Linked DNA regions of Homo sapiens: all the other regions are linked to region 3. The links come from fine-mapping of genetic effects on gene expression. A gene starts in region 3. Each other region holds a variant in brackets. All regions are shown on one strand. Distances are between the middles of the regions.

Region 1 (4,242 bases), 27 kb before region 3:
TGCCCGGCTAATTTTTTGTATTTTTAGTAGAGACAGGGTTTCACCATGTTAGCTAGGATGGTCTCAATCTCCTGACCTCATGATCCGCCCACCTCAGGCTCCCAAAGTGCTGGGATTACAGGCATGAGCCACCGCACCCGGCCTACCTAATCATTTTTTTACCTCATTTTATTAAATTCTCTTATAGCATATTAGGTAGCCTTCAAGGTTTAAATACTTACCAGTTCAGTAAGTAGGTTTCCTGGCTTCACTGCCATATGCTACTTTTCTCAATGCACAACTAGTGTAGCTTAGATTTCACTTTGCATCAACAATGCAACCTTCTATTCTGTATCACTATTGAGAAAGAATCTTCATCCACTCATGCAGAATAGAGCTGAAGGCCAGTTTATTGACTGTTTTTGTGATTTTCCTTGACTCAATAACCGTTGCTAGCTAATGGCCTTATTTAGATGACACTCTCAATGTCTAAAACCACATTGGAATTTCTCTTCCTTTGCTTCAATAGCTTTAGACAAATGGTATAATATTTTATAAGGAATAAGCTAAAAGTCCATTTTGAAGATTTAGTATCCGATTTACTTTTCTTTTGCTTCGTGTCTCATTCATGTTTTCTAAGCAACTAGAGGCAGTCATACCTATTGACTAGCTATTTTTTACAGAAATATTAGTTACATGAAACCTGATACTTTTTTCTTTTGAAAAATAAGGGTTGGCTTTAACAACACATTACAGCAAGAGTGGGGGGTGTGTGTGTCTGATTGCTATATAAGACACTGCTTTTGGTATGAAATTATGACAGTCTTTATGGAAAATAATTTGGCATATTATCAAGTGCCTTAAAAATGCTTCTCCTCCTTGACTCATTTAGAGTATGAACTGGGTTTTTTTGTTCATTTTGTGTGTGTGTGTGTTTTTACTTTGAAATTATTTTAATTTTGAAATAGAAAACATCTTGAAAAAAAAACCCACAAAATATATAGGCAAATTTGTACTCTGTGAGCTTCTCACATCCTTACACTGCTTCACCAATCTCTAAGATGAAAAACTCTGTTCTAAAACATATTCAGCCATCAGCAATGATGTTATTAGTAGGAATATGGATCAATTTAATTTTGTGTTTCTTTGATATTGTTTGGCATTTGATACTGAAATGGCAACTCCTGTTTCCTCTCTATACTCATAGTACTCTCAGCACCTCACTTCTGACACCAGATGGGTAGTTTTTCTCTTCCACAACAATTCAGCTTTCACTTCTCCAGTGGATATTGACTGAGTATCCTATGATTTAACTCAATTCTGACACTAACTGTCTGGAGCAGATCCTACAGGTAAAGGGCTCAGTCCTAAAAGACTGCCCCACTTCAGACACGAATCGCAAGTCCAGGTTGTCACCTGTGCTTCTGACCAACTGGTTATAAACTGGAGGGTCCCCACAACCCCCTGCTCAGGTTCATTTGCTAGAATGGCTCACAGAACTCAGAGAAGCATTTCACTTGTGTTTATGGTTTATTATAAAGGATACAGCTCAGAAACAACCAGATGGAAGAGAAGCGTAGGGGGCATCACTCTCCCAGCACCTGGATGTGTTCACCAGCCCAGAGGCTCATCAAATCATGTTGTTCAAGAGTTTTTTTTTTGAGACGGAGTTTTGTTCTTGTTGCCTAGGCTAGAGTGCAATGGAGTGATCTCAGCTCACTGCAACCTCTGCTTCCCGGGTTCAAGCGATTCTCCTGCCTCAGCCTCCTGAGAAGCTGGGATTACAGGCATGCACCACCACACCCGGCTAATTTTGTATTTTTAGTAGCGACAGGGTTTTTCCATGTTGGTCAGGCTGGCCTCGAACTTTTGACCTCAGGTGATCTGCCCACCTTGGCCCCCCAAAGTGCTGGGATTTACAGGCGTGAGCCACTGTGCCCGGCCTGTTCAAGAGTTTTATACACCCCTAACACCTTACCCAGAGGTTGGTGGGTGGGACTGAAAGTTCCAGCCCTCTAATCATTTGGTCTTTTTGGTGACCATTCCTTTCCTGAGGCTGTCTAGGAGACCTACCATAAGTAACTTATTACCATAAACTCAGGTGTGATCAAAAGGAGTTTGTAATGAATAACAAGACACTCCTATCACCCTTGGAATTCCAAGAGCTCTGTGAGCCTTTTGTCAGGAACCCATGACAAAGGTCAAATATATTTCCTATTACACTACACATACCAAAAGCCAGAACTGAGGGTACACTAAAATGTTAACAGTAGTTAGTCCTGGGAGGTCGTTAGTTGGTTAGTTGCTTGGTCTTTGCCATGTTTTTTGTGGTTATATAATTGGATAGATATTCTGTCATCAGAATAAAAATTCTCTCTGCTAAGTGTGCTATGTTTCCTAAATTTCCAGACCAGGCCTGGCACCCAGCGTGTTTCAAAAGATATTTGCACTTGCCCTGATTTGATGGCTCCTGCATTTCTTACGGTGGTGGAAAGTCAATGAGTCATCATCCCACAGAACAACA[A/C]CACAAACCTCAGTCTTTTGAAAAAATGTAGACTGCTCTGTTTTTCTTATATGTGGAATATGCTTTAAAATAGATTCCAGATTTCTAGTTAACTGTTTGAATTCTCTAGATGGGATAAAACCAAGCCATTCCACATTCCTTTGCTGTAAAAATAACTCCTGTGTATTTATGGTATATGAACATCATTTCTTAACTTTAACACATATTCTAGCTTTGCCATCCATTTTGAAATATTGATAGACAATCATGAAATTAGACTTATTGCTTTAAAACTCTGCTGCTTCCTTTAACTTTGTGGTCCTTTTACTCAAAATCGTTCTATATCTTGCCTGTCTGCTGTAGTGTTGGATACCAATGATAGATTCCTGAGGAAGATCACGATTGGACAGGCTCCAACGGAGAAGGGTCACACACGGACGGTAACAATTTGTCCCTTTCCAAGGAAATTAGTTCAGAGGCACTAGATCTTGCTGCTTCTCTCCTCCTCCATCCTCTCTCATACGACTGATACTGCCAGGTGTTGTTCTGCCTTCTCCCTTTTAAAATGGAAGTGAGTAGGTGTGTGGCATTGAGCACTCCTGACAGCTTTTGCAATAAATCCCATGTGTCACCTGTGTGTTTTTCCCCCGGCATTTTTTCCTGGAGGTGGAGAGCCCCAAGTGAATATCCTTGCATAGAAATTGATTAAAATTGCTTCTTTTTTGTGGCCATTTCACTGTATATCTCCTTGGTTTAAGAGGTACCATATTATTCCCTTGTATATGAAAGAAACAATAAGCGCATGATTATAAGCGGCCTTCATAGGGATAAAATCATAGCTTTTTGGTCCTACTATAACATTTATTTTAAAAAACTGACAACTCAGGGCTGGGCGTGGTGGCTCACGCCTGTAATCCCAGCACTTTGGGAGGCCGAGGCGGGCGGATCACTTGAGGTCAGGAGTTCGAGATCAGCCCGGCCAAACCCCATCTCTACTAAAAAAATACAAAAACTAGCTGGGCATGGTGGCACGCGCCTGTAATCCCAGCTACTTGGGAGGCTGAGGCGCGAAAATTGCCTGAACCCAGGAGGTGGATGTTGCATTGAGCCAAGATTGTGCCACTGCACTCCAGCCTGGGCAACAGACCGAGACTCTGTCTCCAAAAAAAAAAAAAAAAAAAAAAAATGACAACTCAGGGTCTTGGAATAATTAATTAATATATTTTTTTGCTATTAGAGGATTATTTTCATTAAGTATTTTGGGTAGTATTCTGTTATTCTATCCTTTTAAGCTATTTGTTTAAGCCTCAGATGTAAAAGAGGATCACTTTTGCAATTCACACTTCTGGTTTAACACAAAGTTTTTGCTAGTACCTCTTTTCCCTGCCCACAGGCCCAGTTTGATATCTCTGTGGCCAGTGAAATTATGGCTGTCCTGGCTCTCACCACTTCTCTAGAAGACATGAGAGAGAGACTGGGCAAAATGGTGGTGGCATCCAGTAAGAAAGGAGAGCCCGTCAGTGCCGAAGATCTGGTGGGTACCCAGACACGCCAGGCTTGGCGACATATCTGTGTCTGTTGTCCTAGGGTCTTTCAGCAGTTATTAATAACAAAATGTAATGCTGTACTTAAGACATTGCAATTAATTCATCAATTTAATCCTATTTTGCTAATTACAAGATAATTATGAAATGTTTAAAAAGTACATCAGAGTGAATAATAGCTGGTATGCTTTAGTAATAGATCACAAGTTCCAGATG
Region 2 (4,242 bases), 52 kb before region 3:
ATCCCTCCTGCCCCCACAGCCTCCCTATACTCCTGTAAAAGTTCTCTGCAACAAGAGTCGCATGATTAAACATTTCTTTTATTAAAACTAAAATTGTAGAAGCTTTTCTGTGCACTTTGCCTTTCCCTAATCATCTGATTTGCATGCATTTATTATTCTAGGTTGGCAACAGAGATGATTCCAATCTTTATATAAATGTGAAGCTGAAGGCTGCTGAAGAGGTAACGCCAGAAGAGCTGTGCCATCACCCTCCCCAACCTCCACCTGGGTCCTATCGATTACCCCTTGCCCTTTTTGGTCCTCCCTGTGAAAACTTTTATCACCCACAGGAGACATTAGTTTATCTATTTTGTAAGTCAGAAATGGGTGGGTTAGATCTGTGGCCTCTGGTTTGCCCGTGAGTTTTTGTTTTCTCATTAATGATTTTCTTCCCAAAGAGCAGGATGTCAATTGAGGAAAGTGACAAGTCTCGATCATTTTAGGAGATTTATTTGCCAAAATTAAGGACACACCTGGGAGACAGGTCTATACCTTTCTCCGAAGATGATTTCGAGTTCTCCAAATTTAAAGAGGAAAGGGTGGGTTATTGAAAAGTACACGTTTTCATGTAAGAGGTGGGTAGGGAAAAATAGTCATTCATGACCTTCTCTGGCTCAGTGAATCTGCATTTTTTACATAAGATGACAGATGGCCGGACGCGGTGGCTCACGCCAGTAATCCCAGCACTTTGGGAGGCCGAGGCGGGCGGATCACCTGAGGTCGGGAGTTTTAGACCAGCCTAAGAAACATGGAGAAACCCCATCTCTACTAAAAATACAAAAAATTAGCTGGGTGTGGTGGCGCATGCCTGTAATCCCAGCTACTCGGGAGGCTGAGGCAGGAGAATCGCTTGAACCTGGGAGGCGGAGGTTGTGGTGAGCCAAGATAGTGCCATTGCACTCCAGCCTGGGCAATAAGAGTGAAGCTCCAACCAGAAAAAAAAAAGACGATATAGACAAGTGGGGCAGAGGAAAAATGCAGGCAATCTGCATTTTACATAAGATAACATAGACAGAATTGGGCAGGGGAAAAATCAGATATACATTTGTGTCTGGTGGGCTGGGGGGATTTACATTGCCATGGTGAAATTTTAACAGAAACATCATAAAGATGTTGCAGCTCACTACGAATTTCTTTGTGGGCAAAATATGGGGGAGGCATGTAGCTTTTCATCTTGTAACATCTTATTTAGGAACCAAAAAGGGGGAGGCAGATTTGCATGACCCAGTTCCCAGCTTGGCTTTTCCCTTTGACTTAATGAATTTGGGGTCCCAAGATTTAATTTCCTTTCTCAAGAAATAGCAAGCATGACATTGCTGAAGTGCAGTGGTGGCAATTAACAAGTGAATGATGAATGGGTTGAAGTGAGGGACTCATTCTTCAGAACATATAAGGGTGAAATGATGACCAACACCTCCTTGCTTGTTAGTCATGTCTGTAAAAGAAATGGTTCAATATCTCAAGTTGTCTTGCCATTTACCTGCTTTTAATGTCTGTTTTGCAGATTGGGATCAAAGCCACTCACATTAAGTTACCAAGAACAACCACAGAATCTGAGGTGAGCTTTTATGAGTTGATTGTGAAGAGGGAAGGTGAAGTGGTTTCCTCTCTGGTTTTGGTTTACGGGGGCTTTGGGGACTGACACATTTAGCCAAGACCTCCAGGTATTTTTTTTTTTTTTTTTTTTGAGACACAGTTTTGCTCATGTCACCCAGGCTGGAGAGCAATGATGCGATCTCGACTCTCTGCAACCTCCGCCTCCCAGGTTCAAGCAATTCTCCTGCCTCAGCCTCCCGAGTAGCTGGGATTACAGGCGCCCACCGCCTCACCTGGCTAATTTTTATATTTTTAATAGAGACGCGGTTTCACCACGTTGGCCAGGCTGGTCTTGAACTCCTGACCTGAGGTGATTTACCCGCCTTGGCCTCCCAAAGTGCTGGGATTACAGGCGTGAGCCACCACGCCTGGCACCTCCAGGTATTCTTTCTTCACAGACTCCCACAGAGGAGATGGTGCAGGGATGAACATTTGGTACTCAAAGTGTGACTGCAGTACTGTTTGCTTCCAAATCATCTGTTGTGTTTGTTAAAACTGATCCTTGGAGCCAGGCACGGTGGCTCATGCCTGTAATCCCAGCATTTTGGGAGGCCGAGGTGGGCAGATCACCTGAGGTCGGGAGTTCGAGACCAGCCTGGCCAACATGGAGAAACCCTGTCTCTACTAAAAAATACAAAATTTGCCAGGCGTGGTGGCGCATGCCTGTAATCCCAGCTACTTGGAAGGTTGAGGCAGGAGAATCACTTGAACCCGGGAGGCGGAGGTTGCAGTGAGCCAAGAT[C/T]GTACCATTGCACTCCAACCTGGGAAAAAAGAGCAAAACTCCGTCTCAAAAAAATAGGTAAAACCGATCCTTGGCCTGTAATTATCTGCATTCTAAAAACCAAATATGTATTCCTTTTATATGAGGTTCAGGACTAGGCAGAACAAATCAGCGGTGATTAAAGTCAGAACTGTGGTTGCCTGTAGGTGGGAGATTAATGCTAAACTGTAGGAGGATAAAGCAACTTTCTTGAGGTTATGGCAATGTTCCATATATGCGCTGTCCAGTATGGGAGCCACTAGCCCCATGAGGCTATTTGAATTTAGTTAAAATGAAATAAAATTAAAAATTCACTTCCTTGGTTGTACTAGCCACTTTGCAAGGATTAAGTAGCTGCTATTGTATTGTAAGGTGCAAATTATAGAAAATTTCTGCCATCGCAGAAAAGATGATTGGACATTGCTGCTCTACATCTTGATTTGGATGATTGTAACATGGGTATTATTGCTGTAATAAGTTATTAGAGTTCTTAGCTCTTTTTATTTTATTGTATTGTATTTTTAGAGACAGGGTCTCACTCTTTTGCCTCAGCTGCAGCACAGTGGTGTGATCATAGCTCATTGTAGCCTCAACCTCCTAAGCTCAAGTGATCCTCCCACCTTAGCCTCTTGAGCAGCTGGGACTATAGGCATGAGCCACCATGCCCAGCTAATTTTATTTTATTTTTGAGGCAGAGTTTTACTCTTGTCGCCCAGGCTAGAGTGCAGTGGTGCAATATTGGCTCACTGCAACCTCCACCTCCCAGGTTCAAGCGATTCTCATGCCTCAGCCTCCTGAGTAGCTGTGACTACAGGCATGCGCCACCACGCCCAGCTAATTTTTGTATTTTTAATTGCCCATATTGCCCAGGCTGGTCTCAAACTACTGACCTCAAGTGATCTGCCCACTCAAGCCTCCCAAAGTGCTGGGATTACAGGCGTGAGCCACCGCACCTGTCCCCGCTTTTTTTTTTTTTTTTTTTTTTTTGAGACAGAGTCTTGCTCTGTTGCCCAGGCTGGATGCAGTGGCATGATCTCAGCTCACTGCAGCCTCCGCTTCCTGGGTTCAAGCGATTCTCATGCCTCAGCCTCCTGAGAGGCTGAGATTACAGGCATGCGCCACTATGCCCGGCTTATTTTTTATATTTTTGTAGAGACAGGGTTTCACCATGTTGGCCAGGCTGGTTTCAAACTCCTGGCTTCAAGTGATCCAGTAGCTGCTATTGTATTGTAAGGTGCAAATTATAGAAAATAATTTTCTATATTTTGGGAGGCCTGCCTTGGCTTCCCAAAGTGCTGGGATGACAGGTGTGAGCCACCACACCCAGCCCTAATTTTTTTTTTTTTTTTTTGAGGTGGAGTTTCACTATTGTTGCCCAGGCTGGAGTGCAATGGCACAATCTCAACTCACTGCTGGAGTGCAGTGGCACTATCTCAGCGGACTGCAACCTCCACCTCCCAGGTTCAAGCAATTCTCCTGCCTCAGCCTCCCGAGTAGCTAGGATTACAGGCATGTGCCACCACACCTGGCTAATTTTGTATTTTTAGTAGAGACAGGGTTTCACTATGTTGGCCCAGCTGGTCTCAAACTCCCAACCTCAGGTGATCCACCCACCTCAGCCTCCCAAAGTGCTGGAATTACAGTCGTGAACCACCGCACCCAGCCCCTGGCCCTAATTTTTAAAAAGTTTTTGTAGATATCACATTTCACTGTGTTGTCCAGGCTGGTCTTGAACTCCTGGGTTCAAGTAATCCTCCTGACTTGGCCTCCCAAAGTGCTGGGATTACAGGCATGAGACACCTCGCCCAGCCTCTTAGCTCTTTTATTTGATGGACTTCTTACCAGAC
Region 3 (4,242 bases):
AAGTCTGTCCGAATTTGCCCTTCAAATACTAAATAAATTCATCTCTCACCTCAAACTGCCTTTCAGTTCCCTTTTACTAATTTTGTTTAAAAGAAAGGCAAGTGAAGGCCAGGCATGGGGGCTCACACCTGTAATCCTAGCACTGTAGGAGGTCAAGGCAGGAGGATCACTTGAGCTCAGGAGTTCAAGACCAGCCTGGGCAACATAGGGAGACGCCATCTCTACAAAAAAAAAAAAAAGAAGAAGAACCTGGGCATGTGGTCGCATACCTGTGGTCCCAGCTGCATGGGAGGCTGAGGTGGGAGGATTGCTTGAGCCAGGGATTGTACCACTGCACTCCAGCCTGAGCAAGACCCTGTCTCAAATAAAAATAAAAATAAGACAGCTATTTTACCCTGTCTTCACCTAAATAAGCTCATCTTATTTTTTGCCTGAAACTCTTGCAAACTCCCAGGTCTGCTAGTTTTGAGAAACCTTGGATCTCAATAAGGAATAGTTCTCAATTGCTTATAAGCATAATGGATTTCTTTTGGCTTAAAGTTCAAAACTGGCAACAAGCAGCGCTAGCAACCCATAGAGAGATACGCAGACCATTTCGATAGACGTGTTTGCTGAGTGAACAAGGCTGACTGAATTTTTTTTTTTTTTTGAGGCAGGGTCTCACTTTGTTGCCCAGGCTGGCGTGCAGTGGTGCAGTAGTGGCTCACAGCAGCCTTGACCTTCTGGGCCCAAGTGATCCTCCCTTCTCAGCCTCCTGAGCTCCTGAGTAACTGGGACCATACGTGCACCACCATGCCCAGCTAATTTTTTAGATTTTTTTGTCTCCCTATGTTGCCCAGGCTGGTCTCAAACTCTTGGACTCAAGCCATCCTCCTGCCTTGGCCTCCCAAAGTGCTGGGATTACAGGTGTGAGCTACTGCGCCCATCCCTGAATTCTTAATTACAACTAAACTAGATGCTTATGGATTTTCCTGTTTTACAACTCTTGCCTCTTTTATCTGTAATTTTAAGATCTTGACAGCTTATATTTGGCTTTGCTTTTGTGTCTCAAGAGTTCTTTCCTTGATAAGCCTCTGTGGAAACTACAGAATCTTACAAATATAAAACATTTCCGGAAAAAATACAAAAATGGACACCTGACATTTACACTCCCTAAGGTCGTGATCCTGTTGAAGAAAGGAGATGAACGCGGCTGCTTTTCAGTAGTTCTTCACTTCACCTTACCAGGTTCTTCATCTGGATGCTATGCTATGGGGGCCAGAGGAGGAGGCTGGGATTGTGATGGATCCTACTAGATTTTACAGCTGGAGCTCCCAGGAATGCCCTCATAGGGAATGTCCTGAAGGGAATCATGGGTAACTTGTAAGCTACCTCAACTTATTTTTGGAACTATGTAAGGTATAAGATGGATGGAGCTGGGTTCCTGTGCCTTTCTCACCTTGTCCGCATAGAGATGCAGCTGCTCCTGCAGGCCAAAGTTCTGCACCAATCACCTCCACCTGCTTCCCACTGGGAGACAAAGGTTTGAAAGCCTGTTTGGCGATGAACCACGATGATCTGACACTCAAGCCACTCCTGAGAAAGTCGGGTTTCTTTCTGTTTCCATTTATATATGTAATTTTCGCTTCAAACAAACATGACCTCGCTATTCTATGCACAGTTTTGAATCCTGCTTTTAAAATGCGATGTCTGCCTTGTCTTTAAATATTCTGAGGGGGAGGAGAGGAGATGTGTAATGCGACTGTCTATAATTTGAAACCGGACCTCACTATTTAGCGTCTCAGAAAACGCGGGGTTCATTGCCCTGGTCCCCCCCGCCTTCCCCCGCCCCCCGAACCTTCCGGCTGGCTCTCTTGCGGTCCCCGCCTCGGCGCTGATGTGGTCTGGCAGTGGAGATTGGCGCCCGGGCGGAGCACGATGGGCTTCCCCGCGGCAGGCAGGCAGGCTGCTGCTGCAGGTGGGTCCCGGCGCCCGCGCCGCCCCGCGCCTCCGGCGGTCGCCCCGCCCCTGCCCGCCCGCTCCGCTCCGCTCGCATTGGCGCTGCCTGCTGTCTGTCCCCGCGCGGTGGGGAGGGGGCGCACCCGGCGGCGGGCTCTGCAGAGGGCGCCTTGCTCCGGGTGCGACCGCGGCTCCCTGGAGGCCTGGGCGGCGGGCCCCGCGAGCGCGCCGCCACCTCGGGAGCAGTGTTGGCCAAGGACCCCGACGCCCTACGTAAGTAAAGGCAGGGCGGGGAGCCTGCGGGGGAGGAGGGTCGGGGGCAATGTCCGGTCCGCGGACCGCGGAGTGGGCAAGAGGTGCCCACTGGATACGGGGTATCCGAGCCCTCTGAGGTGCTGGGAGTAAGAACGCGGGAGGTCGCTTGTCCGCTGGAATCCGCGGCCAGGGCGACCCTCATCAGGTCTGCCCACCTATCCCCTTCGCGTTACAGCTTGTCTTAGAAGCATGGGTTGCCGGTGGCTTTTTTCCTTCTTTATCCCTCTTTGAGAAATGTGATTTTGGGTTTCTGGCCATTACATTATAATTCTGCAGACAGCCTGAAGCTGGGTTATCTGTTCCACGCCCCCGGCATTTTCCTTTTTGAGTACTTTATCCTGCGCTCTGTCTCCTGCCATAAGGGGCGTCAAGCCAGAATTCGAGATTCCTTCCTCCAGGAGGAAGCTTCGTGGTCCGTATCTGGTGCTGGGAAAGATGCATTGCTTTCCTCGGGTACTGGCTGCTCAAGGGAAAAAGGAAAGGGGGTGTTTTCTGTGACATGAGACTTGCAATTCCATCAGGAAATGAGCACAGGGACTTTAAGATTTCCTGAGGCGATAAAGCTACCCTTGCTGGTTAAGAGCGAATCATTTGCAGTCTGACATTCTGCAAAGTTTTATTGTCTACAGACTGCATTATTTTCCCTCGTTAGTTAAGTTTCTGTTTGGGTATTCGTTTTATTTCTAGTATGTGAGATACATTCAAGTGAGCTTCTCAAACGATTGTCTTTGCGCAATCCAGGTTAGTTTCCAATGACAGACTCCTAAACATCTCATTTCAATATTTCTATTATGTGGTAATACAGCCTCTGCTTAACAAAAATGCTCAGGTGCTGAAAACTCACAAGAGGTGAGAAGATTTAAACAGTTATCAGCTTAGGTTCTAGTGCTCACTGAAACATTGTGAGGAGAAACACTGTCAAATGTTCATATTTTAGTTCCGTCATTGTTCTAGAATGACTTTATCTTTCTGTTAGAGGCACACAGTATGAAACACCCAACCTAAGATAATATTTACTTAGATCATAAACTGATTTTCAGGGTTCCAGTTCCTTCTACAGTTCATAAAATTATGGGTTACCCAAATGAAACTTCAGTGAAGGATTTACATAAAAACAATATAAAGAATGAGTCCCTTTGCTTATTTTAGGGCATCCACCCACTAAAATTCATAGGATCTTTGTTGGATAATCACCTCCCATTTCCATTCTTTGGTGCCATCATACCATTCTAAGGATTAAATTTTCAATACACCTTTATATTATCTAAGTTTGCCAATTGCATAGTTTGCCAACTTATTTTTGGCTTTTAAATTAGTTCCTGAACCAAAAAAATAAAATATAAAGAATTTCAAAAGCTTGGTTTTCAAATGACAAGAACTCAGTCTACTCGTGGTTCAATTATGAGTTGATAAGTGCCTTATGGTTAAATGACCATTAATCAATTTTTTAATTTTTTTACTAATGAAACACTGCAGATTAGTATCCCCAAACAATTCATTTTCTGACGAAACTCTTAAAGCCCAGTTTCAGAACATAAGCTTTAAGCAACAAGCAATCTTGTGTTAATCTGAGCTCTGTTACAGCTCTGCCGTAATCTCAGCCAAATTGCTTCATCTGTACGTGGTGATACCACCATCTTTGTAATATTGTGGTGAGGATTAGAGATGTATGTAAAAGTGCATGCACTGCCTAATACCCAAGAATTGCTCAATAAATGTCAGCTATTACTACTCTTACTGACTTCCAACTATGTGCAGATTATGGTGGAAACATGTGATACAGCAGATACAGTACTTAAATGAAAATGTCAAAATTGTACAACTAATTTAAGAGTGGGAAATGACAGTAATGCTAAATTTTCCTAAGAATATGTATGAAAAATAGCACTTCCTTGATGGAACATACATTTTTAGAACAGAAACCTTATGTTATAATGGTAAAACTAGAGAGTCAAAGTCTCTAGTTCTAACTCTGGCTATGACCTTATC

What was found.
Region 1: its variant is fine-mapped to the expression of AKAP5 in whole blood (TOPMed, PIP 0.91).
Region 2: its variant is fine-mapped to the expression of AKAP5 in whole blood (INTERVAL, PIP 0.92).

What each region holds. Positions count from the first base shown.
Region 1 is chr14:64,436,251-64,440,492 of GRCh38, forward strand. It overlaps MTHFD1 (methylenetetrahydrofolate dehydrogenase, cyclohydrolase and formyltetrahydrofolate synthetase 1), which reads left to right. Exons shown (of 28, transcript NM_005956.4): 17 at 2,846-2,922; 18 at 3,876-4,016. Among named protein-coding and RNA genes, the nearest start is that of AKAP5, 27 kb to the right of the region's middle. The variant A/C (reference allele first, on the strand shown) is at 2,504.
Region 2 is chr14:64,410,929-64,415,170 of GRCh38, forward strand. It overlaps MTHFD1 (methylenetetrahydrofolate dehydrogenase, cyclohydrolase and formyltetrahydrofolate synthetase 1), which reads left to right. Exons shown (of 28, transcript NM_005956.4): 3 at 162-221; 4 at 1,544-1,597. Among named protein-coding and RNA genes, the nearest start is that of MTHFD1, 25 kb to the left of the region's middle. The variant C/T (reference allele first, on the strand shown) is at 2,378.
Region 3 is chr14:64,463,403-64,467,644 of GRCh38, forward strand. AKAP5 (A-kinase anchoring protein 5) reads left to right here and starts at 2,097. Exons shown (of 2, transcript NM_004857.3): 1 at 2,097-2,211. It also overlaps a transcript of ZBTB25 not described here. RefSeq lists silencers at 1,892-2,291, 2,302-2,371.